4 linked regions of the Homo sapiens genome follow. The protein of the gene in region 4 interacts with the protein of the main gene of each other region in a pairwise test. Each region holds a gene or a part of one and is shown on either strand. Other genes may lie near its edges. The genes, in order: CTNNA3, FSD2, KRT16 and TTC23.

Region 1 (3,208 bases), on a different chromosome or scaffold from region 4:
CCCTGGAAGAGGATCGAGAGGCTAACCCCATGGGATTCATACTGAGAAAGGATTATTATCAGCCTAAAAATGAGGAGGCCAAGATGGATGTTAAAAACCCACCAATTTTTAGATACAAGAGCATTGGTAGAACCAATGGTATTCCATGACCACTAGGGAGTATGTGTTCGGACATTCTCAGAAAAGTTATTGATCATTTTCATAAAGTCCTAAGCTAAAGAACAACTCTTGAGCTACACAGAACTATTAAAGGCATGTCTAATGCCCAAGACTAGTGCCTGTATTAGACCAAAAATGCTCATTTAGACTATGAATTTAATTCTATCAGATATGCTTCAGATTACTTGTGTGCATGCAGTAGTTTGGAAAAGTGCCTTCCTGAATTATAAATATAAAACTGAAAGAGGATGAGAGTGAAGGTGACACTTAGAAACACATGGTTGGACTACTCAGCAATTTATTAATCTCCATTTTTTTCATCCCACCCAAGAAATCCGCCACCAAATATCAACATAAAATGCATAGCCAATCTTTTCATTTTTATTGCTTTAACACACATTTTAATTTTCAGTTGAACAAATTCTTAATGAGCTACAGAGTGACATGAGTTGAAATTAGAATAAAGTAAAATAATACTATATAACCAAAACAAACCCAGTGTTACATATGTGAAATAATGCAATTAAGAGCACAACTAAAAAAAATCATTGATTCAGTTAAACACAAAAGACATGCAGGGTCTCAAACAAGGAGTATTTGGGCTTCTATGTCAATGTCATAGGAAAGAGCTTTTTCTATTTCTGGATAAATATTTCATTTTTATTGATTGGCAAAAATACTTTAAGGATAAATATGGACCAGAAAGGCCTACAGTATTTTTGCCAAATTTTATCTATAGCCAAAGCACAAAACTGCTTTGAACTGGTCATTAATATAATGGGCAGTTCATTCAATCATATTCTGTCTCTGCAGAGCAGGGTGAAATGAACAAGCAAGATAGTCAGAAACACCTCAAACGCCACTAAACTTAAGTTCCCAAGATATTGCTGCAATAAACATGACTATTATGAATTGGTTACTTTTATTTCATCTCAGAAAGTCTTAGTTTAAATCTGCTTTCATCCTAAATTATAATGTGCATATTACCTTCAGAGAGGTCACTACATTTAAGCTGTCAAAGTTGTTGTTGTAATACGACATAAAGTAAATGATTTTTTTCCCCCAAGTTGCTATGAAACTAAAACCATAATCAAAATGGAAAACAGGGGCATCTGGAAATCTTTCTCTAGAAGTTTTAATTCATATTTAATCACCCAACTTGCCCAAGAAAATTTTGTTTTAAGCCTCAATTATTAGGTACTAAATTGGGCATAAAATATGTCTACTTCTGTTTTCAGGAACTTGTTAGTCACGGATATGGAGGAGAAATTATTATGCTACCATTTAGGTCTAAGGAAATTTTCTTTGGAGGGACTGTACCACATGAGAAAAATTTGCAAAATCAACAAATAGCACATCTTAACCCTGCAAGACAGTTGCTGAAATTCTCATATTTATATCCCTATGGACACAATGTATACTAACATGTAAAAATACAGCATTATAATGGTATAAGATTTGGCAAGCAATGGAACATGATTTTTATAGTAGTTTAAAATTAATTTTATGTTTAAATATTCAGGAAGGAGGATAGTTCTGTTTAACTGAGAGCAGGGGCTAGCATCTCTGACTTACTCCTTTGCTTTACTAATAAACACTCCACTACAAATCTGGTGTTAAAAGCCCAGGTCAAGGAAATCCCTTAGTAGAAGCTCAACTCTCAGTGAATACCACAGAGAGGTTCAGGTAATTTACACAGATGGGGAACTGATGTGACATACCTAAGGTTGGCCTGAGTCTGCAGAAGCTGGGCTGTCAGAATAGAAAAGCAAGATATCTACAGGCTTTTGAACTATTGATACAACTATTCAAAGGGGGCTTTAAATGTATAAGGAAGTGTCACAGACCTCCAACACCAAATAACCAGAACTAAAAATAACCATCCTTCTTGAAAATGCCAAGGAAATAAACTTTGGAACTGGGAATATTTCATTTGAAATGAAAACACAAGAACTACTCTGCTAATATTAAGTAGCTTTTGTACATGTTCTAAATTGAAGAAACATTTAGACATAATTGTTAGAAATCTGAGCCTTTTTGAAAGAGAATTTTCTCCTTGAGGGCTTTCCTTTCCTACAGTTGGGAATAGGCACCATCATGACTACCAGATACATAAAAGTGAAGATCCCCAATATACACATCCATTGCTCAAACTAGGAATGTGTGTATTTCTTATGTGGCTCCACCGTAAGAAATATCAGAAAGTCATTTAACTCTCCAAGGCCTGAGATTTGAAAGCCTATCCAGCAACATGGGCAAGAAGAGTCTAGCCTTCAGTCGACTCTAAAAAAGGCCATGTAATTTTAAAACACAAAGTTTACCTGTATTCAGGCACATACTATGCACACGTGTGACCTCCATAAAGAAGGAAAGATGTATTTGCTACAGTTTGGGTAAATTTCAAATACAGGGAAACTTTATCCTACTACAATAATCCTTGGCCAACACTCTGCTGCAATCTATAATTTTAAACACAGTCACATGTTAGCAGTAAAAGAGGAAAGGATTGGTGTTAACAAATGGTATTAACCAACCAATACTGAAGATGGGCTGAAACAGGCATTTCATTGAAGCTTTCTTCTCCATGGTAATAAAAGTAATTTGGCAAAGGTTGTCCTCTTATTTCAGATCACGTAAATAACTTACTTCCCATGTACCTGACACTCTACATTCAGTTAATAGAGGTGAGAATATTCAGCTAATTATATATCTGTCTTGAATGATGTAAAATATATATTAATATTTTAAAGCCAGTGAGACTTTGAGCAAGATTCTTATCCCATTTAACCCTCAGCTTCCTTGTCTGTGGAATGATATATATCCTATAGGGTTATTTGGAGGATTGAATAAGATAATAGTTAGCATTTAACACAGAGCTGGCACATGAGGGCAAGGATCACTATTTGTTTTGTTATATGGTGTATCCTAAGAACCTAGAACAGTGCCTGGAACATCACAGTTGTTTAACAAATAGCTGTTAAATATATGAACGTATGGTAACCCAGATTGGCTCTAATATTGGGAAGAATTTCACCTACCATCAGTCAGG
Region 2 (7,035 bases), about 16 Mb from region 4:
ACTCAGTGACCACAAGGGCTCGCAGAACCTATGAGTTTACAGCAGCCTATGATGGAGGAAGCATAGGTTTACCTCTGGTTTACAGAAGTTTGTGAAAGGGGATGAACCACCCAGGCAGGCCAGCACCAGCCACCAGGACCAGGGGCTCCCCTGCTGTGGAACACAGGGGTGCACTGACCTGGAGCTGGAGAAATGAAGAGGTGTTGGTGTCAATTGTTAGGGAAGCAGATTCTTCTATGCTAAATGCCAGGCTTGAAACGTGGCCATATGCCACCCATCCATCTGTTCCAGGTGGAATCTGTGTGTCCATGGCCACACAGAGGCTGACTTTGGTAATCCACTCTGGAGATACTCAGGAGTGGGGCAGTGTGTCCAGTGGTTCTGGCCATCCTAATGGTTCAGGTTTCCTTTGCAATTTATGCTGATACTTTAGGAGCACTTGACACCTGGGACCAACTCACAATGATGAGGTCATCAGAGGGCTGGTCAGTAACCTGAGAGATGACCTGAGAGCTGGTGCATATTCTTCCAGTACAAATCCAATCATGGCGACCCATTGCTGAAGAAAAGGCAAAACTCCTTCACAGGCTCTGGCCCCTTCCTGCCTCTCCAGCTCCTCCCACACCAGCTCCCCTCCCTCTCAAGATCCCACCACATTGGTCATGTTTCAGTTCCTCCTACTTTTCATGCTCCTTCCTGCCACAGGGCCTTGGCACATGCTTCTCCTATGTAGGAGACTCCTCTGTCCCTTTTTCATCCAGTTACCTCCTCAGCATTCTTCAGAGCTCTGCTCAAAAGCCATCCTGCCCCCACCATTATACACTACAGCACACTATCAACTTGTCTTGGTTACCATCTTACATTCCTTCCAGTGATTGCCTGAAGAATGCTGCTCTTCCCATCTAGACTGTAAGCTCTATGAGGGCAGGAACTACATTTGTTTTTTCTGAGGGCCTCCCTATACAGTGCCTGGAACCTAAGGAGTTTAGTTAACATTTATTGAATGCATAAGTAAAAGTGCCCCTCTGGCCCAGAGCTGCAGCCTGAAGATAACCTGGACAACTTGGCCTCATCTGGGTGAGGGTGTTGTATTGGTAAATGGGCATCATCCTAAAGACTTCTCTTGCCCACTGGACTGACATGGGGTTGGCAACCGCAGCAATATAGACAGTGGCAATTATGAGCTTATATTTCTGTATAGTACAATTTAAATACATTGGATTATTTCCAATAGGCAGCTGTTAGGGGGTTAACAGCAGTTAACACTTTCAGCTCTAGTCAGAATTGTTTGCTCATAAACATAAATCAAGGACCTTTTTTTTTTTTTTTTTGAGACAGTCTCACTCTGTCGCCCAGGAGTGCAGTGGCGTGATGATCTCGGTTCACTGCAACCTCCAACTCCCAGGTTCAAGCAATTCTCCTGCCTCAGCCTCCTGAGTAGCTGGAATTACAGGCACCTGCCACCACACTCGGTTAATTTTTGCATTTTTAGTAGAGACGGGGTTTCACCATGTTGGCTAGGCTGATCTCGAACTCCTGACCTCAAGTGACCCACCCGCCTCAGCCTCCCAAAGTGCTGGAATTACAGGCATGAGCCATTGCACCTGGCTGAATTGACGGCCTTCTATGGGCCCAGTACTGTACTAAGAATAGCGGTACTCAGCCCCTGACCTCAGAGACATTATGATCCTAACAGACGGACAGAGACACACTGGATTCTACTGCATGCACACTCCATGATGCAGTGTTAACCATATGCCAAGCACAGTGCTGGGTGCCTGGGAAACCAGAATGAGGGACTTGGAGAGGAGACAGCCACAAACACAAGAAGTAGCAATGAAGTGAGAAAAGCAGACCAGAGACTGTGGGAGGGAATGCAGAGGGGGAGCCAGCACTCCTGGCTATGCTGCTGTTAAATGTGGGTCAGAGGACAGGAGCGCAAGAGTGAGTTAAACCTTCCAGCTTTGAAAGGGATGCCTGGTGCTTGGGCCTGGGTGTCCTAGCCCCATTCTGACTGCAGCTCTGCTTCCTTGTACAGGTCTGTTGTGGGCATCCCGACCTGCGAGTCCGTGGTGCAGCTGCAGCCGGGGCGGAGCTACATTATCTATGTGCGAGCCCTCAATATGGGGGGCCCCAGCGTGAGGAGCGAGCCAGCTACAGTCCACACCATAGGTCTGTGCCCCAGCCCACAAAGTCTCTGGGACCCAAAGTGGCCACTCTGTGGCAGACCCAGTGCTGCTATGACTTCACTGGGAAATTGATGAATATGCACAGATGTGGACACGTGGCAAGTCAGGCCAGAAGGAGTTCAGGGGTGTCCCATACTGCCCTAATTGCAAGTCAAATGGATCATTAAGAAGTCCTTCAATTCCTATTTCCCTTGGCAAATAGGTTAGAAATTCTTATCCATACACAGGCATTACAGCTAGAGGTAAAGAGCACAGCCTCTGGAATCAGAGGGGCTTGGGGTTCAAGTTTAAGTTCTATCATTTGCCAGCTGATTTCTTAACCACCTTGTGCCTCTGTTTCCTCATCTACAAAATGGAAATAGTGACACCTGTTTCTAAGGGTCGTCGTGAGGATTGAAGGGGATACTAGGCACACAAGACTGCCCGATGAGTGTCAATTGCCATCCTTGTTAACTGGACGCCTATTACTAGGCCAGGTCCAGGCTTAGGTGTATCCCACACGAAGCTAAACCGGTGACCACCGCCCACATGGAGAAAGCAAGTGATTGGCTGCGGGTCTTCTGTGTGTTCCTCCTCCCACAGGAAGCTACTTTCGCCTAAACAAGGACACTTGCCATCCCTGGCTGACCATTTCTGAAGACGGACTTACGGCTGTACGAAGTGAAAGGAGAACCCCCGCCAGGGAGCTGTCACCCAGCGACACTCACTTCACCAGGTACTTTGTCAACCGCTCACAAGGGCGTTCTGTGAACTTCCCGAAGGTGCACTGTTATTCAGGTCAAATCCGAATATGGCACGGAGGCAGCCTCGAGGGAAAAGGAATCCTACAAATGAGTGAGGAGGGAGGAGCCTAATGGGGAGGGGACCCAGAGGAGTGTGGGCAAGAGGGGTCAGGCAGGTGCAGGCAGAAGAGCCCCCTGGGACGGTGAGGTCAGGAGAGGGCGCGGTCCCCTGGGAGGGCATGGTCCCTGGGTCCTAGGCTGCCAGAGCTGGAGCAGCCAGAGGTCATGAGGGTGGGACAGGAATTACTAGTGGAGGGTGTCCAAGTTCTTGGCGTTCTGAACAAAGAATTGGACAAAATGCACAAACAAAGCAAGGAAAGAGGCCAGGCACGGTGGCTCATGCCTGTAATCACAGCACTTTGGGAAGCCGAGGCAGGCAGATCACCTGAGGTCAGGAGTTTGAGACCAGCTTGGTCAACATGCTGAAACCCCATCTCTACTAAAAATATAAAAATTAGCCGGGCCTGTTGCGGGTGCCTGTAATCCCAGCTACTCGGGAGGCTGAGGCAGAAGAATTGCTTGAACCCGCGGGGCGGAGATGGCGCCACTACACTCTAGCCTGGGCAACAGAGTGAGACTCCTTCTCAAAAAAAAAAAAAAAAAAAAGCAAGTAAAGAATGAAGCAACAAGAGCAGAGATTTATTGAAAACGAAAGCACACTCCACAGGGTGGGAGTGGGCCAAGCAAGCGGCTTAAGGGCCGGGTTACAGAATTTTCTGGGGTTTAAATATCCTCTAGAGGTTCCCACTGGTTACTTGGTGTACACCCTATGTATATGAAGTGGCTAAAGTGAAGTTACAAAGTCATTTACTGGGTGTACACCCTATGCAAATGAAGAGGATGTTTCCTGCCATGCTGAAATACAAAGCTATTTACTTGGACTTAGAAGGTTGGGGTTTTTCCGTTTAATTTAGTTCTAGGAAGTCCTTAGGTTCCCTGCCCCCAGACCCTGTTCTCCTGCTTCACAGGGGTCATGCTGTGGGCTAGTGGGAGAACAGAAACAAGGACCCAGGTCTCCCACCAGTTAGCCCAGTGCTCTCTCTCCTGCACTGTGGTACCTTACAGCAAAACTCCTGATGGAAAACTGGCCATGGAGTGAGTCTGTTCCAAAGTTCAAGGCAGATAATTGCTTTGTACATGTACATATGAAAGAAGCCGGAAAGATCATGTTTGGAGAAATATAAGGAATTTGGTATGTCTGCGGTATAGGATCCATGACGGGAAGAGGTGGAAGATGAGGCAGGAAAGTCGGAGAAAGTCCAGTATACACACAAAAAGTTAGGATTTTATCCTCTATGTGGTGAGAATTATTGGAGGATTTAAAGCAGGGGAACAAGATCAGATTACATTTCAGAAAGATTCCAGTGCATGGTAGAACGTGAGCTGGGGAGGGAGAGGGAAAGGCAAAGGCAGATGGGAAACAGAGACCAGAGAGGAGACTATGGAGGGCTTGACTACGCAGTAGCATGGGTGAGAGGAGCCAGGGGAGTCAACTGCTGTTGAGCACATAAAACCAACAAGGCTAGGTGCTCACCTGTTTAAAGGGCAACAGAGAGGAAGATGAGTCAGGGACTATCATATTGCCATATTTATAGAGTGCTTACCAAGTGCTAAATGTATTTCATCTCATGCAATCATCCTAACAGCCCTGTACTATTACCAATCCCAGTTGACGGATGAGAATACTTAAAACACAGAGAAGTAACTTGCCCAAGAGTATAATGCTATTAAGGGTTGAAGCAGGAATCAAACTAGAAGGTGAGCTTGTAGCCACTACATTATTCCCATCTTAGTTTTCCACCAGGGGGTTACCGGGTAGATAATGACTCTATTAACCAAAATGGAGATGTGAGAAGTATGTACCCCTCCCCACTACACCCCAAACTTTGGTAGATAAGAGGGGTGGGAATATGACTTTTTCCATTTGGGACATTCTGAATTTGAAACAACAAGTGGAAATGTGAGTCTGGAGCTTGAAGCAGAGATGGCCTCATTTTATAGGTGAGGTAACCGAGGTAGAAGTTAACCAACATGCAACCTCCTTCCCAAAGCTTTGCTTGAGCAGTAAGAACTTGGGGTTTTGAAAGTAGAGAGAAAATTTTAAACTGAACAAATCTTTCTAGGGATGTTGAGGTCTATATATATTTTGGTTAATGTAGGAGTCTCCTGAAGAAGGTAGAATATTCACTTTGGAGATACCAGTATAATTTGATTTTCACTGAAAACCTTCCTCTGTTGATACTTTGCTGATGTAGAACAAAACATAACTCTAATCTTTGTCAGTATAATTGTTCCCAGTGCAACAGTGGAGGTAGATTTTAATGATCTGTGAGGAATCTGCTATCTTGTTCTCCTTGGGCTGGCCTCTGAATTCCACCAGGAGTCATCCCTAACATGATGGCTACCTCAAAGGCCTTCCATGTTCATTTAGTACCATAAGCAATGGTGGTGAACTTCAAGCTTATGGTTCCCTTAACCGTGCTGTGTTGTGTATTTTCAACCCTTTTCTTTTTTTATGAACAAGTGAACCAAACCTTTTTCTATGAAAGCCCCAACCATTTTAAAGAGCAAACAAAACTTGTTCTGTTGGTTTAGTGCCTCCTCCTCTCCCATTACCAAGCAGTAACATAATCTCAAATCTTCAGTATCAGCCCACTGAGCTTTGAGAGCTAAGGGTACTTTACAAGTTAAGTGTCCAGAAGCACCTACCACCACGTTCGTAGACCACCGACTGACTGATCCCAGCAACTGGCATCACTGACCTGCACAGCCAGGCTTGGGGCACCCCAGATCACACATGCTTCCACTTTCTAAAACCAGGTGTGTTGCTGTCATGGGAAATCTAATTCCAGTCCGAGGGCACCATTACTGGGAGGTGGAGGTGGATGAGCATTTGGACTACAGAGTTGGTGTGGCCTTTGCAGATGTCCGTAAACAGGAGGATCTGGGAGCAAATTGCCTCTCCTGGTGCATGAGGCACACATTTGCATCATCAAGGTAAAGTAAAATCTGGATACTCACAATTAAAATTTGCTTTTGAAAGATTACAGCAAGACCTTTTCACTAGCAATAATTAAGACACACGTTATATTTTACAAATATTTTAAGATATTTCAGGAGTTGCTGCCAGCCACTTTCCCTAAAGTCCAAGTAAGAGGAGAAAGAGCAGCTTTTCTTCAACTAAAAATAGCTAAAATTTATGGAGAATTATGTGCCAAGTACTCTTACATGCATTATCTCATTTACTTCTCACAATTGTGTTATCTCATTTGAAAAATCAGAATGCTGGGTGCAGTGGTGTGCACCTGTAGTCCCAGCTACTCAGGAGAGTGAGGTAGGAGTATTGTTTGAGCCCTGGACTTCAAAGCCAGCTTGGGCAACATAGCAAGACCCCGTCTCTAAAAAAAAAAAAATAATAAAATAAAAAAATAAAATAAAATAAAAGAATAAAAATAAGAAGACCACACCTCACAGCAATTAGATAATCCAAACGACATGGATTTGGAACTTGGATTCAAACTCAAGCAGTCTGGTTCCAAAGATTTCATTCCTAACCACTTAAGTGATAGATTTTTCATTTCTGTTCACCTTTAGTATTAAGCCAATACAGTTTGCTTTGAAGCCCCAGTTCCATCTTTTTAAGTAAATGTGGGCAAGAGGCTTAGTAGTTATGGCTAATTCTGGTTTGCTCCTGCTGCTGGGCACTCTGTCTTTACACATGGAGTAGTTCCATATAGTGGGAAAAAAAGTCTCACGAAGCCCAGGCCAATGAATACACTTTCAGACTTAGAAGGCCATGGTTACAACCTTCCTTCACCTCAAAAACTGAAAAACAAGACCCCACACTGCTTTCCTATCACACCTTGTAAAATGGGGCCTCTGACCCTCCTTGATTTGATGAATCCTATTAATGTTCATCCAATGCTCTCTGCCCATGATCCTCTATCATGGTTATTTACACATTATGTGTCATGCCCAAGCATAAGTGGGAAAACCAACTTCCCCTCCGATAACAGATGAAGACTCTAATGAAATCTACTAAACCTCACACCCAGTTTGGGGAA
Region 3 (7,511 bases), on a different chromosome or scaffold from region 4:
AACAGAGATCACACAGGTTTGCATCAACCAGAAAGTCAGCTTTATTAGCCCACCACCAGCAGAGGAGCAGGGGAGATAGCTGGGAACTGCGCCAGGAGAGCAGGGTCCTGACCCGGGCCTTCAGGAGGTGAGGCCAGCTGGTGGGCAGGAGGCTGTGGTAGAGGCAGCTCAGTTCTAGGAGCTCTGGCCCTGGCTGAAGCTGGATGAGCTCTGCTCCTTGAGGATGGGCCGGGTCTGACGGCTCGAAGAGGACGAGGAGGAGGTGAAGACTGTGGGAGAGAGAAGAGGAGGTGAGAAGGGGTCTGAGAGCTAAGCTGACTCCAGGGCAGGGAGAAGGGAGGGCTGGGAGCTCTGAGGAGAAGGGCCCAGCCCCCACTCCATGGAAACAGGCAGAGGGGCTGCAGTGCCGGGGAGCCTCAGAAGCCTTACCCTCGCGGGAAGAATAGGATTGGCCAGATGCTTGCTGGGAGGAAAGGCTGTGGGAGAGAAAAAGCAGGGCAGTCAGTTGTGCTGAGAGCAGCAGGGGGGCTAAAGGGTCTGGGAGGCAGAACTGAGGGGCCTGGGACTCACTGGGCATCCTCGCCCTCCAGCAGGCGGCGGTAGGTGGCAATCTCCTGCTCCAGCCGCGTCTTCACATCCAGCAAGATCTGGTACTCCTGGCTCTGCTGCTCCATCTCACAGCGTAGCTGGGCCAGCTGCTCCTCCACACTGCCAATCAGTCCCTGGATCTGGGACAGCTGCATGCAGTAGCGGCCTTTGGTCTCCTCCAGGCTGTTCTCCAGGGATGCTTTCTGCAAGTGAGAGAGAGAAAAAGAGTCCATGGAGGTGGTCACTCCTGTTCCTCCAGGTCTCTGGGCATGTTTTTTGAGAGATGCCTGGATTTTGATCCCAGTTGGGGTACTGATGGGCCAGACAATATGGAGAAAAGCTAGCCCACTATTCTAGGGCTTAGTTTCTCTATCTATATAACGGTCCCATGAGTCCCCTGGTCCCATCCTGAGAAAAGAAAGGTGGAACTAGACTGTGGCTTTTTGAGGGGGTGGTGGCCATTACTGGTGACTTGGGGGCTGCTGCTGTGCTGGGTCCTTCATACCATGCTGAGCTGGGACTGCAGCTCAATCTCCAGGCCCTGGAGCACCCTCCGGAGCTCCGTCACCTCACTGCGGCTGCTCTGTACCAGTTCGCTGTTGGAGGCCACTTCTTTGTTCAGCTCCTCGGTCTGAGGCAGGAAAGCAGAGTGAAAGGTGAGGCTCTCCCAAAGCCCCCAGCTGGGAAGTGCTGCAGGCTCACTGCGGGCCCGAGCCCCACCTTGCTCAGGAACCAGGTCTCAGCGTCTCTGCGGTTTTTCTCTGCCATCTGCTCGTACTGGTCACGCATCTCATTCAGGATGCGGCTCAGGTCCACGCCAGGTGCAGCATCCATCTCCACGTTCACATCTCCGCCGGTCTGACCTCTCAGAGCAAGCATCTCCTGGGAAGGGATGGCAGGAGGCGGTCAGTTCAGCAGACTTCTCTCCTGGCCCTGGGTGCATCTGGCAACCCCACCAAACCAGCCTCCCACCCCGGAAGCCAGCAGCGACCGTACCTCCTCGTGGTTCTTCCTCAGGTAGGCCAGCTCCTCCTTCAGGCCTTCGATCTGCATCTCCAGGTCAGTCCTGGCCAGGGTCAGCTCATCCAACACCCGGCGCAGGCCATTGACGTCGGCCTCCACAGTCTGCCGCAGGGCCAGTTCATGCTCATACCTGGCAGGACAGAGGTCAGGTCCTCAGGCTGCAGCCCTGAGGATTCTGAGGCTCGGGGTCTGCTGGCCCTGCTGGGTGGACCGCCCCACTCTTTGTCCCTTGCCCTCTGCCCCCAGCCCACCATGCTGGCTGCTCACTTGGTCCTGAAGTCATCGGCTGCCAGCCTGGCATTGTCAATCTGCAAAATGGGCTGCGCATTCTCAATGGTGGCCGCAATGATCTGGAGTGGGGATGGAGGACAGGAGCCCTGGTCAGCCAAGGACCTTACTACTTGAGCATGAAAGGCAGAAAGGGGCAAAAGGAACCGCCCCAAATCTGGAAGTCTTCTGGCTGGCAGGGCTGGCATGCCTTCTCCACCAGCTCAGGCTACGTAGGGATGCACTCCATCCCGATCACCCCCTTCCTGGGCCCAAGGCAGGGAAGCTGAACTTGCAGCTGAACCCTTGAAGGAAATAAGAGATTTAGGGTAACAGCCCCAGTCCGGGCACAGAGATACTGAAAAGGGACCCTCTGCTACCACTTCCCTGGGTGATCCTGGCCACTCCCCAAAGGTGCCCAGTCTCCCTGTTTGTAAAGTGTAATTGCTAAAAAGAGGTATCCCAAGGGCCACTGTAGCCCCAGCCTCTCTCAGTGCTCCATACACCAAAGTCACCCACCTTGTTCCTCAGGTCCTCGATGGTCTTGAAGTAGGGACTGTAGTCTTTGATCTCACTGGGCCGCTGCCTCTGGTACCAGTCACGGATCTTCACTTCCAGGTCGGCGTTGGCCTCCTCCAGAGCACGCACCTTGTCCAGGTAGGAGGCCAGGCGGTCATTGAGGTTCTGCATGGTCACCTTCTCACTGCCCACCAGAAGCCCATCACCACCAGCAAAACCACCACCAAAGCCAGCACCCAAGCCACCACCGAAGCCAGCACCAAGGCCACCACCATATCCTCCCCCGAAGCCACTACCAAAGCTGCTGCTGCTGCTGAAGCCACCGCCATAGCCGCCCCCCAGCCCGCAGGCTCCCCCAGAGGAGAAGCGAGAGGAGACAGACAGGCCGCCCCCGTAGGTGCTGGGGGCACGGCAGGACCCTCCGGCCAGGACGGAGGAGATGCGGCTGGAGCCGCCCCCGATGCCGCCTCCGATGCCGCAGGAGCCCTTCATGGAGCTGGAGGAGGTGAACTGGCGGCTGCAGGTGGTCATGGTGCCAAGGAGGGAGGTGAGCGAGTGAGCAGTTGGCTGAAAGAAGGAAAGGTGCTCAGGAAGGCTGAGAGCGTGCTGTGGCTGCCTCCAACCCCAGAGACCTTTATATGCAGCTGGGGAAGGCGGGGCCCTCCTAACTGCTGACTCCAGGTTCCCCTCTGGATTTCATCACTCCCGGTCCCGTCCAACTCCTCACTCTGGATTATTCAGCCCAGGATCAACTCTGCTGTGTGCCGGCTCAGAGTTCCCACCCAGCTTTGGGGGTGTGGGGCCGAGAGAAAAACACAGAAATGCGAGTTCGGTGGTGACTCAGGCTAGGCGGTGGGGAATCAGGCTCCCTTTCCTGGAGCCCTCGGGGCCAGTCGGGCCTTGGCACAGGTGGCTTTGTGGCAACTGCGTCCCCAGGCAGTGAGTCAGCCCTTCAGAAGAACTCCCTGCCCCACAGTGACAGCCTTGGCTGAAAGAGAGCTCAGTGATGCCATCCTGGGCTGTCTTGGGGAGCAGTTGTGGGGATCCCACATGTCCCACTCTGGGCAGGGGCAGAGTTCCTGTCTTCACTCTGCTTGCTGTGTGGCCTGAGGCTCCCCACCTCCCACCTCTGGGCCTGTTTCCCCTCAGTGACCAGGCTGGACTGGGTGACTGCAGAGTCCCTTCTGTTCTAAAAATCCTATAACTCTCTTTCCCCTCTTGGATCTAATTCCAGTTCCAGAGGCTGCCTTGAGCCCCCGGGATCTCCAGAAGTGTGTGCACCATACAAACAGCACTGGCCATGGAGCTAGACAGGCGGCACTGAGTCCCTGCTCTGCCCTTACCAACTGTACAGCACAGGCTGGTCCTATAGCCCCTTGGTCCTCAGTTTTCTCATCTGTAAAAGGGGATGACACACCACTAGCCACAAAGAAACATGCGCGAAGGACCCCACCGGCCCTTCCCCGAGGGCCAGCCCTGCCCCTCAGCCTCCCCATCCTGCCCCTCCAGCCACCTGCTCCTCACACTCACCTCTACACACTGGCACCATCCCGCACCCCTAAGCAGGGCCCTGCGCCCCCCACACTCCCAGCTGAAGAACACCACAGCCCCACACCTAGCTCTGCCACTCCTCTACCGCCCTCTCCTAATCACAGGCACCCCACCTGCAGGCTGGTGGGAGGGAGCCCCATCCTGCCACTACAGCCAGGTATGACCCCTGACCCCACCTGGGCCTCAGAGTCCCCCCCTACCCTGTAGAAACAGGACTAGCCGGGGATCCGTTCCCAGCAGTTCTCTCTCCTGTGTCCACAGATCCCAGGCTAGGCCTGGCAGCTCCATTCATCCAGCTGAGCTGGGGGAGAGCACTGGTTATGGGCCCACTCAGGCATGCATGGAGAGCCCAGTGTGTGCCATACAGTTCTGTGAGCGTAGAGATTCACTCAAAGTCACTCTGCTTTAAGCTGCAGAGCTGCAACTAGAACCCAGAACTCTGGCCCTCTCCAGGCTCCCACCATGCCTGCAGGCGGGGCCAGTATACCCAACTCTCACCCACCTCCCCACGATCACTGGCAGGAGGTCTGCCCATGGTGGGCATGGCCTTGGCCTGAGAGCCTGGTCCAGCACCGAGGACTGGAGGGAGGATGGAGGGGTCTGGGCACCAAGACGGGGCCTCCTCAGGGTGCTGTGGGGCATCCCTCGGTGCTGGCCACTGGCCTTGCTCTGCAGTGTCTCTGTTGAGGTGAGGAGCCCAGAGACAGCCTGCTTCTGCCTGAGCTCCACTGGGGCAGGCAATTCCTTGTCTCAGCAGAACCAGGGTTTTGTCACTGCTACATCTCCCCTGGTCATTCATCCCAGAGGTAAGAGCAGAACGGATGCACATCCCTTCAGAGTCAAACCTGGGAGAGGGAACCTGACACTCCTCACCCCTACCCCAAAAAGGGGCAAAGGGGACCCCGGAATCTTGGACAAAAACCTCAGTGTTCAGGTGTCAGGTTGGGCCTGGAGTTCTGGTCCATCCACAGACCCATCACCCTCAGAACTGAAAATGGTCTTCAAGGTCACCAAAGGCTATTAATACCCCAACTGGAGAGAGCGAAAGCCTTATCCAGGTTAAGCAGCACAAAAGTGAGAGAGCAGAGACTCGAGCCAGCTCTAACTCCCAAGCCAGGATTCACACCGACTCTCGTAGTAGAGTCTCTGAGAACTCTTCACTCTCTGCCCCCATCGTGTGTGCATGCACACACACCCCTTTCTCATTGGCTCACTGCCCCCCACCAAGTTCCCCATTCCAGGAGGTGTCAGGGCGGGATTATACACAAGCCCAGCACTGCAGACCTGGGGATCTGCATGGGCTGAGAAGCTGCAGGAAGTTGCTGACCAACGCGCCAAACTGCTCAGCCAACTCCATAGATCACGCACCTGCTGTGTGTACAGCTCTCGGGGGCTGGGGGTGAAGAGGGAGATGATGACATAGTCTCTGACCTTAGAAGAACTTATCATTTGACCCTGGAGGGAAAACTAATGCTGGAAAATACAGAACCTGGCTAGAAACCCTGGGGTGCTGGGCTTGCCTGCCATGCCCACACCACAGGAGGCAGCTGGGGTAGGCATTGCCCCGCTGAGCCTCAGCAGTAGAGGAGGGGGCTGCCCTCCTGGCCTTGATCCCTGAAAGGGTCCTAGCAGAGAGAGGCACCAGCAGGGCCTCAGAGGATCTGAGTTGACAGAGGAGGAGGAGGAGGCGTTTCCTGTGCACCAGTGATGCACACCTGCCCCAAGGTGGCCAAGAGCCAGGACCACTAAGCCTGGTGAGCACAGAGAAGCCCAGTGGGCATCCTCCAGGCAGAGGATTCCTCCCCACACCCTGCCTCCTTCCTCCCTCCTTCGTACTGCCCATGTCAAGCATGAGGCATGAGATCATGGCATACCTGAGGCAGCCGGGAAACACCATTGGCCAATGCCACGCCTTGACTTGCAGTGATTCTCCAACCAGACAGATCGTCAGAGTCCCCATGAAGATTTGCAGCCCTGCTCCAACTCCCGCATCAGCACCGCTCAGGACAAGCCTGCTGGTGGGGCTGTTTTACAAGCTCCCCAGCCAACTCAGACTGGGAAGGCAGGAGGCAGCTTGGGGGCTAAGGAGGGGGGCAGAGAAGCTGAGGGGAGAGAGGGGGCTGCTGCAGGGCCCCCAGCCTCGGGTGGACAAGCCAGAGCCACAGGCTTCAGGGCAGGAGGAAGGAAAAGTAGAGCCCCACTGAGCCAGGACAGAGCAGCCTAGAATCGGGGCAAGCAGGGGCGAAATCTTGGGCAGGACATTCAGCCTCTCTGAGCCTCAGTTTCCTTCTCTGGGAAATGGGAATAACAGCCTTGCCTCACAGGCATATTAGGGGATTCGAGGCCAAATAAATAAAGCACCTGGAAAAGGCTGGTGGCTAGCGTTATGTTTATGAGCAGGTGTTTATAAAGTGCCTACTATGTGCCTGGCACTGTGCTGGGCACTCAGACTCAAAGAACAAGACAGAGAAGCCCTGGAGACACAGTCTTCTGGGGGAGAAGGTGGTAAAGACAATCCCAATACACTAATGTCAGGCCACGATGGGGTACTGGGGCCCTGCAGAGAAACAGAGAGAGCAGGGTCCCTGGGGGAGAACAAATGTCCAGGCCCAGGCTCTGCCCCTGTGACGGCTCCCGGGATCTGGGGAAATCTGTGAGTGCCAGGCCCACCTCTGGGGCTCCTATCCCCTCCTGCATGTTTGATGCCCCCCTTCTGAAGGTGGGGCTGTCATAGCCCTTCACAATCCAACCACAGATCTGCAGCTTCTGCCTTGATGATGGGGTGAAACATTCTGTGCATTGGGCAGGGTGGGTGTGGACGAACTGTGAGTCCCTCCATGAGTCCCATAGCTGGGTCTCCAGTCCAGCCCAGGCACATGTCCTCAGCAGCCTGGGCCCACTTGGGGTGCCTGTTCTGCACAAACAAGGAGCCCGGACTCCTGTGTGAGTCTCAGGAAACCCACAAGAGGGGCTCCCATTGCCCCCACCCCAGGAATGTGAGCAGGAAGCTGGTGCCTCCAGGGAAGGCTGCGGACCCCAGGGGGTTGTGGGAGAAAGAGTGGGCCTCTCTCAGGGATGTTTCTTCAAATGGTCACTACAGCTCAGGGTGAGGACGGGCCTCTGTCCAGCTCAGTTATCCCCTCAGCTCTGTGCATGGGGGGAGACCTGCCTGGCTCTGTTCCCTCTGTTCCCCTCATCTCCCCAAAACCTGGGTTGCCACAAGAGACCCACACTGCATAAAGGCTGAGGGACTGTTTTCAGTCCCTCAGGTCCCCTCGGGGCAGGCACTATCTCTTGGGGTCAGGACCGGTGTCTCCTCCTTCCCCTGGCAGGATGTCCTGCAGGGAGATGGATGTAGTGGGGGACACTCATCTCCCCCTGGACATGCTACCAGGTCAGCCCCTGCAAGGGGGATCCAGAGGTAGGCTACCACTGGCATGGACCTGGCCTGAGAATCATATGTGTGTGTCCATCACTCAAGACCAGGTGTGGCAGCTCCAAGGGCAACCACAGATCTGCAGCTTCTGCCTTGATGACAGGGTGGAACATTCTGTGCAGTGGGC
Region 4 (7,359 bases):
TCCTTTCATATTCTGACCACCTCCAATCTATCACAAGGCTAGTGGCCTCTATCTCCCAAATACATCTCAAATCCATCCAAATCTCTCCATCTGCCAAAACCACAAGCCACAGTCATCTCCTGCCTGGCCAACAGTATTACCAGTCTCCCTGTGTCCACTCTAGTCACTTCCAACACATTAATCCCAGCAATGGGCCTTTAAAAATGTACATCCAATTACATCTCACTCTTTTCGGTACACATCTTACTAAATAAACCCTTCAGAAACTTCTTACTTAGAAAATCAACTCATACTAGGCCTTGAGGGTGCCTCACCATCTGCCCCCACCCACTTCTCCAGCAACTCTGCTTGGCTTCTCACCAAGCTTCTGGGCTTTTCCAATCCTCAAAGCTACTAAACCCCTAACAGCACTTGCTGGTCTCCTCTTAGCCTAGAAAGCAATGTCCCATCATTCTCCAGATTTCAACATAAAAATTACTTCCTGAGACCGGGCGCAGTGGCTCACGCCTGTAATCCTAGCACTTTGGGAGGCCGAGGAGGGTGGATCACCTGAGGTGAGGAGTTCGAGACCAGCCTGGCCAACTTGGCGAAACCCCATCTCTACTAAAAATACAAAAATTAGCTGGGTTTGGTGGCGGGCGCCTGTAATCCCAGCTACTCGGGAGACTGAGGCAGGAGAATCTCTTGAAACCGGGAGGCGGAGCTTGCAGTAAACCGAGATCGCACCACTGCACTCCAACCTGAGCGACAGAGCGAGACTCAGTCTTAAAAAAAAAAAAATCACTTCCCTATCCCAAAGTAATTCCCCTGGTGTTCTTTCAGAGGAACTTGGCTGTTTGTTTTTTCTTCGTAGGACTCCTCACAATTTGTCACTTAAATATTTATCGTTGCATCTGTCTATTGTCAATAAAGCCAAAAAGCCTGTAAATAAACCCTTCCGAAACTTATTTAGAAATCCTGAGGGCAGGGACTGCGTTGTTTTCTTCACGCTTGCATACCTGCATCTAGCACAGTAACTAAAAGTAACCCTTCCTAAAACCTAGGTGATGGGTTGACAGGTGCAGCAAATCACCATGGCACACGTTTACCTATGTAACAAACCGGCATATTCTGCACATGTATCCAGGGACTTAAAATTTTAAAGTAGGCCTTCTAATATCTGATGACATGTGGAAGAACATTGCAAGGTTGATTTTTCATCCAACTATGTCAAGACCACGGATAGAGCCTATAAGCTTGCTACATGCCACAAGGATGTCTAATCTTTACAACCATGCACTGCAATAGACATTATGTAGCCCGTTTTGTAGAGGAGGAAACTGAGTTTCTCAGAGGGTAACATGCCATAGTTCCATCGCAGGTGGACTGACTACAAAGCGTGTGCACCGCCGCCCTATAATGCAAAACCACACTCACTGAAGGAAGATTCAATAAGACAGTCCCTGTAACCTGACGGCTTTCCTTCTGAATGTTCTGGCTGGGATTGGCTGCCTCAAAAACACCATTACACTCTGTTAAAATTGCTACAAAGGCTGTTTGGGAGATAAAATCTAAACAAATGAAATCCTAAAACTGCCAATAATAGCAATAAAGCATCAACAATGCTCACAGTTTTGCAGTATGCATTCACGGGCCATACACAGCCTTTAACAAGGTAATTTTCTTACCCCATTTCACTTGACTACATCTTACCTAGTTAAGCAAACTACCTCTTGTATAGTTATACTACCTCTTATGTAGTTAAGGCAAATAGTATTACTTAATATCAGCTGTATACAGCTGCACTTACACACGAGCTTTCTGACAGGTGAACACCAATCTATCTTATTATTAAAAACAAAACAAAAAAATCAAAAACCTCTCAACAAAATTCCACACATATTAAGGAGTATTTTGAAAGGAAGGAGTCCCTTATACTGACCTCCCCGTACTCAATTTAGTAGAATACGCATTCCAATTTCCTAACGCTGGAGATTAGAGAACTATAAGCTACATATTAAAAGCATTTGTAAAAGGCTATTTTCTCAGCTGTGGTAACAAACACTGGCAGAGTCTTAGGCAAAACACACGCCGTTTCGCCCGAGTTAGCCAGCCACTGAGATCGTTACAGTTGGGAAGCAGCGAGCCCAGCAGCAGGGATTTCACGGACCCGGTATCAGGGTTCTCGGGTCCCAGGGGCCGCGGGCCGCAGAGTGGGAGGAGGACCCGGCAGCTGTGGCCACCCGAGGCCCGGACGGCTCCGCTGTCCCACTCGCCGCGACCCGGACGCTTTGGCAGGACCACGTCTGGGGCGTCCCCGCCGGGGGGCCGGGTCAGAGAGCCTCGCCACTTGAATCACCCGACGAGGCGGACAGCTCTACTCACCTCAGCGCCAGCAGAGCCAGCGCTCCGGAGCGCAAGCGGCGCTGGAAGCCAAGCGGGGGACGGCGGGCGGGGCGGGGCAGGGAGCCAGGCGAGGGCGGGGCGGAGCGCCGGGCGTCGGGGGCGGGGCTCCGGGGGTGGAGCGGAACCCGCGCCAGAGGGAGCTGGGGAAGAGGGAGCGGGAGAGGAGCACGGAACCTCGCGATAATCCCCTGTGTTCTCGCGCTTTCACGATAGGCGCGGGAAAATGCTCGTTTGCCAAGCGATCTGTGTATTGGCCGAGAGCGCTACTTCCTCTATGCTGGCCCCGCCCGCGGCTCTACTCTTGCTTCCGGCTCCGGCGTGGGGTTTGATGTCGACGGAGTGGCTTTTGCTTAGCGTCTTGAAGGGGTAATTTAGTCGGCTCCAACTTCGGGAACCGCCAGTTACTGACCTGTTCCTTCATTCATACATTCATTCAGTCACTCGGCTTCTCATTCAGAGCACACGTTGAGGGATTACAACAATGATCCCACGTTGAGCGTTCGTTCTAAGAGCTGTTTATAGATTATCTCGTTGAACCCTTGACAGCAATCCCATGACACAGGGACTAACAGCGCCAGTCTGACCGTTGAAAAACAGGCCAGTGGGTTTATGTAACGAAGCCAACGTTATTTAGCAAGTAGTGAGTCTAAGCACCGGATTTAAGGGGTCACTACGAACTGGTAGATAACAAAGATGAGGAGGACGTAACCTAGTCTCTGCCCTTCAAACACCCAAGGTTTATTTTGAGTAAAGATTGCTAAAAAGGTCAGGAACAATTTAGAGAGTTAAATACAATGACACTTCCTAGCCTGACTGAGTAGGCCGTCAATATGTATTTCTTCAAGACGAAAATTATTATGTCAGCGAAATAGCATGAAAGAGGGCTTTATGCTGTTAAAAATACTTGGAAGCATAGTTCGGAAACATTTTTAAAAGACACTTTTTAAAGTGTCTCATTAATATGACAAATTTCCTTCTGAAATGAAGATTTTAAAGTATAATCCTCTACTACAACCGCTGATATTTTTTGTTCTGTGGAAAGCCTGTCTATGAGTTTGCGAGGCTCCTTGTCAAGGAACTTTAACTTTATAATGAAGTAGTTTTTACAGTTGCTGACTTAATTATTCATAGAGACGAATAACCTAGAAAGCAGAGTTATATTAAATAAAAAACATTGGTTTTAAAACAAGGTATGAGTTATAATAAAAATTATCAGTTATCTATTAAATCTGGTCTTCAAGAGCTATTCAGGTATACAGCATGGTTGGTATATGTCATGTATTTCTAAGATAGTTTCGGAATACCTAAGAATTCGTGGCACTCAGAAATTTTTTGCTGGTCTTAAAATGAGGAAATCCACATTTTGTGTAAAAACAAAGATACGGTGTTTAATGGTCAGCCCAAATAATAAGACTTGCTGCTAATATATGAAGAGTTACACCCCCCAAAAAAGAAAAAAGATTAACAGTAGAACAGTTTTTTGAAAACAATGTTAGCCTCTTAGTTTTCATTTCTTTTTTTTAATGGGGAATACTGTTTTTCAGTGATTAATATCTGATATTTGATCATGAAAAATGAATCATGTTAAAATAACCTTCACCTCCTCCCCACATTGACACAAAAGTTACCAAGTGATTATATTTGATAATACTTTATGACCCCACTCTTGAAGTTCTCACAATTTGTAGAGAATCAATTCGCACGTTTTGTCTCTCTTAAAGGGGAAAAAAATCCTCTAAGCTGGTGATTTCACGTTCTTTGACAAACTTCAATATCAACAGGCAACGATACCACTTTAAGAAAATTCCAAGGAAAAGACCTCATTTTAAAATTCCCACCTCTGGCTCCCAAAGATTGGTTTGCAAACTTCGACAAAATACTCTTCTCCACTCGCTATTGGTGAGTGCTCTATCATTCATTCTTTTGCCTGGAGTTTTGTGAGGTACCCGCTTGCTTTATGGGAAAAGGCTGCTCCGGAACTGCCCTACTTTAGACTTTTTCATGGTTATCAATCTGTACAAAGAATCACCAAACTGATAAAGCAGGAACCAGAGGGCAAATCACGCTGCCAAGACAACTGTGTAATTCGCTCGAAAAAGAAACGGTGAGCCTCTCCAGCAGACTGGGTAAACTGGCAAGGGATTTTACGACATAGTTGGAGATTGGAGAGTTACAGAAACTTTTCCGGTTTTTTACAAGTTTTAAAGGAGTGATTGAGTGTCAAAGGAAAAGCAGAGAAAATACAGGCACAATTTAAAGACAGCAGGAAGAAGAGTGTTCAGAGAGCATTTTTCTCTTTAGGGTGAAGTTTGAAAGCATCATGCCCAGATTATCAGTGGATTTTTGAAAGGTAAAGGAGGCAAGATAATAAGATTAACTATAGATCATTTTCTACTTTAAGAAACTGTGCTTCGTTATTGTTGCTTAAGTGTGGATTTAGAAGGACATTTAGTAATATTGTAATTTTTATATGGATATTTTTGTTTATATATTGTCATACCTGGCATAATAGATAATATATCTATTAAAAGATATAGGAGAAAATAGAGTTGCTTGAACCCAAATTTTGTGTATATTTGTGGATTAGGGATTCCAGGGACAGATCTGCTAATGGCTGAACAAAACATACTACAGATACCTGAAGCAGAATCAGCATGTAAGGGTAAATTCTCAAAAAAATCCAGCAATCATATTTCAAAAATGACATTTTTAATTAAAACAAATACAAAAGAATTTATCAAGGAAACGTTGATGAACATGACTATTTCTTAAGTTGCCTGTGTTAATCCATATAGGGGAATATAAAGTAATAAAATCCAGCCCCTCAAGAGCAGGGACAAATGAGGCTCAGAACATTTAAACTAAAACTTCTGAACAGTTCTTAATGCCCGGATGACTGTTGTAGAGCACAGGTGCTTCAGGAGCTCAGCTCAATGTGAGATGAATTATTCAGAGAAGGCTTCACAGTATGGGTAAGACTCAATTTGGGCCTGAGCAATGGGCAGAATTTCAGAGAGAAAAATAAGGGAAGTGGCATCCCTACTAGTGAGTGAGTTGTTAGCAAATACATGCAGCCTGAGGAAGAGTTGGTTCTGACTGCGGCAGAAGGTTCATTTGGAAACTTTGGTTACAAATTTTAAAAAGCAGCATGAGAAATATAAAGAGCCGGAATTCCCAAAATCAGGGGTTTGGGTCCTGTGTTTGGAACAGGAGGCACCCCTTATGAAAGTAATATTTGAAGACAATAAAACTGACAGTGGAATTTAAGATGGCTAGACCAGAGCAGAGACCAGAAGCTAAGGGGCCCCATGCTGTGTAAATACTGGCACACAGGTTAGTAACCATGCTTCTTACCCGAATACATTTACCTTATCATTGTTGAATAATATAAATTTTGATGCACTTCTTTGTAGTCTTCGAAAGCATTGAGTTTACTTCTTTAAGATTTTTGGGGACCGCTGCCACACTGTCTTGGGGAGTCATGGTTGCCCCGTCTTTATAAAAGTCTTGTCATAATATGTATAAAAACCAGAATTACACATAAAACTGCGTTGTGGTTTCATAGCTATTTTTAACAGCTTTAATGAAGTATAATTTATATATTATAAAGTTCATTTGTCTTAAGGATATAACTCAATGATTGTTTTAGAAAATCACAACCATCACCACATTCCAATTTTAGAAAATTTTCATCATCCTAGAAAATTTAGAAAATTTTCATCATCCTAGAAAATTTAGAAAATTTTCATCATCCTAGAAAATTTAGAAAATTTTCATCATCCTAAAAAAATACTTTGTGCCCATTTGCAGGCAAGTCCTGGTTTCCTATCCCCAGCCCCAATCACTAAAAAACTTTCTGTCTATAAATTTACCTTTTCTGGGCATGTAAGTGGAATTACACATTATGCGATCCTTTGCATCTAGTTTCTTTTACTTAGCATAATGTTTTTGAGGTTCATCCATGTTGTAGTATGTCTCATTACTTCATTCCTTTTTATTGCTAAGTAATAATCCACATTTTATTTAACAGTACCAATTAACAGACATTTGGATTTCTTCTAGTATTTAAATATAGTGTTTAATTGTACTAATTGTAATTGTATTACAGTAAATACAGTACAGTATTTAGCATTATGAATAATGCTGCTATGAAGATGGGTACAAGTTTTTGTATGAACGTGTGTTTTCAGTTTTCTTGGGTGTATATCTACGAGTGGAATTACTGTCATATGGTAACTCTGGGTGTAACTTTTCAAGGTGTTGCACAACTGCTTTCCAAGGTGAATTTCCCATTTTACATTTCCACCAGAGTGTATGAGGGTTCCAATTTGTCCACATCCTCACCAACACTCCTTATGATCTGTCTTATTCATTGTAGTCATTCAGCTGGATTTTAAGTGGTATCTTATTACAGCTTTCATTTGCATTTTCCTGATGACTGACGATATGAAGCATCTTTTCATGTGCTTGTTGACTATCCATATATCTTCTTTTGTAAAATGTCTTTCAAATATTTTGCCTATTTTTTTAATTGAGTTGTCATCTTGTTACTGATTGTTTTTTGGTTTTTTTGGTTTTTGTTTGTTTGTTTGTTTGTTTGAGACTGGGTCTCGCTTTGTCGCTCAGGCTGGAGTGCAGAGTGCCACGATCTCGGCCCACTGCAATGTCCACCTTCCGGGTTCAAGCAATTCTTCTGCCTCAGCCTCCCGAGTAGCTAGGATTACAGGTGCCCACGACCACGCCCAGCTAATTTTTTGTATTTTTAGTAGAGACGGGGCTTCACCATGTTGGCCAGGCAGGTCTCGAACTCCTGAACTCGTGATCCACCTGCCTTGGCCTCCCAAAGTGCTGGGATTACAGGCATGAGCCATCGCGCCAGCCCATGTTAATAAATTTTTTTTTTTTTGACACGGAGTGTCACTCTGTCACCCGGGCTGGAGTACAGTGGCTCGATCTCAGCTCACTGCAACCTCT

What was found.
Region 1: the proteins of TTC23 (region 4) and CTNNA3 interact in binary tests that used the Homo sapiens proteins (3 or more experiments, as listed by UniProt).
Region 2: the proteins of TTC23 (region 4) and FSD2 interact in binary tests that used the Homo sapiens proteins (3 or more experiments, as listed by UniProt).
Region 3: the proteins of TTC23 (region 4) and KRT16 interact in binary tests that used the Homo sapiens proteins (3 or more experiments, as listed by UniProt).

The regions. Positions count from the first base shown.
Region 1 is NC_000010.11:65,912,005-65,915,212, forward strand, and holds the end of CTNNA3 (catenin alpha-3), read right to left. Parts: 3' UTR 519-3,208; downstream 1-518. UniProt on the Homo sapiens protein: May be involved in formation of stretch-resistant cell-cell adhesion complexes.
Region 2 is NC_000015.10:82,761,035-82,768,069, reverse strand, and holds part of FSD2 (fibronectin type III and SPRY domain-containing protein 2), read left to right. Parts: intron 1-2,038; coding exon 2,039-2,172; intron 2,173-2,771; coding exon 2,772-2,904; intron 2,905-5,791; coding exon 5,792-5,968; intron 5,969-7,035.
Region 3 is NC_000017.11:41,609,761-41,617,271, forward strand, and holds KRT16 (keratin, type I cytoskeletal 16), read right to left. Parts: upstream 3,008-7,511; 5' UTR 2,929-3,007; coding exon 2,398-2,928; intron 1,962-2,397; coding exon 1,879-1,961; intron 1,742-1,878; coding exon 1,585-1,741; intron 1,471-1,584; coding exon 1,309-1,470; intron 1,220-1,308; coding exon 1,094-1,219; intron 792-1,093; coding exon 571-791; intron 477-570; coding exon 430-476; intron 270-429; coding exon 175-269; 3' UTR 18-174; downstream 1-17. UniProt on the Homo sapiens protein: Epidermis-specific type I keratin that plays a key role in skin. Acts as a regulator of innate immunity in response to skin barrier breach: required for some inflammatory checkpoint for the skin barrier maintenance.
Region 4 is NC_000015.10:99,246,547-99,253,905, reverse strand, and holds the start of TTC23 (tetratricopeptide repeat protein 23), read left to right. Parts: upstream 1-4,324; 5' UTR 4,325-4,735; intron 4,736-5,595; exon of another isoform or gene 5,596-5,693; coding exon of another isoform or gene 5,694-5,718; intron 5,719-7,359. UniProt on the Homo sapiens protein: Participates positively in the ciliary Hedgehog (Hh) signaling.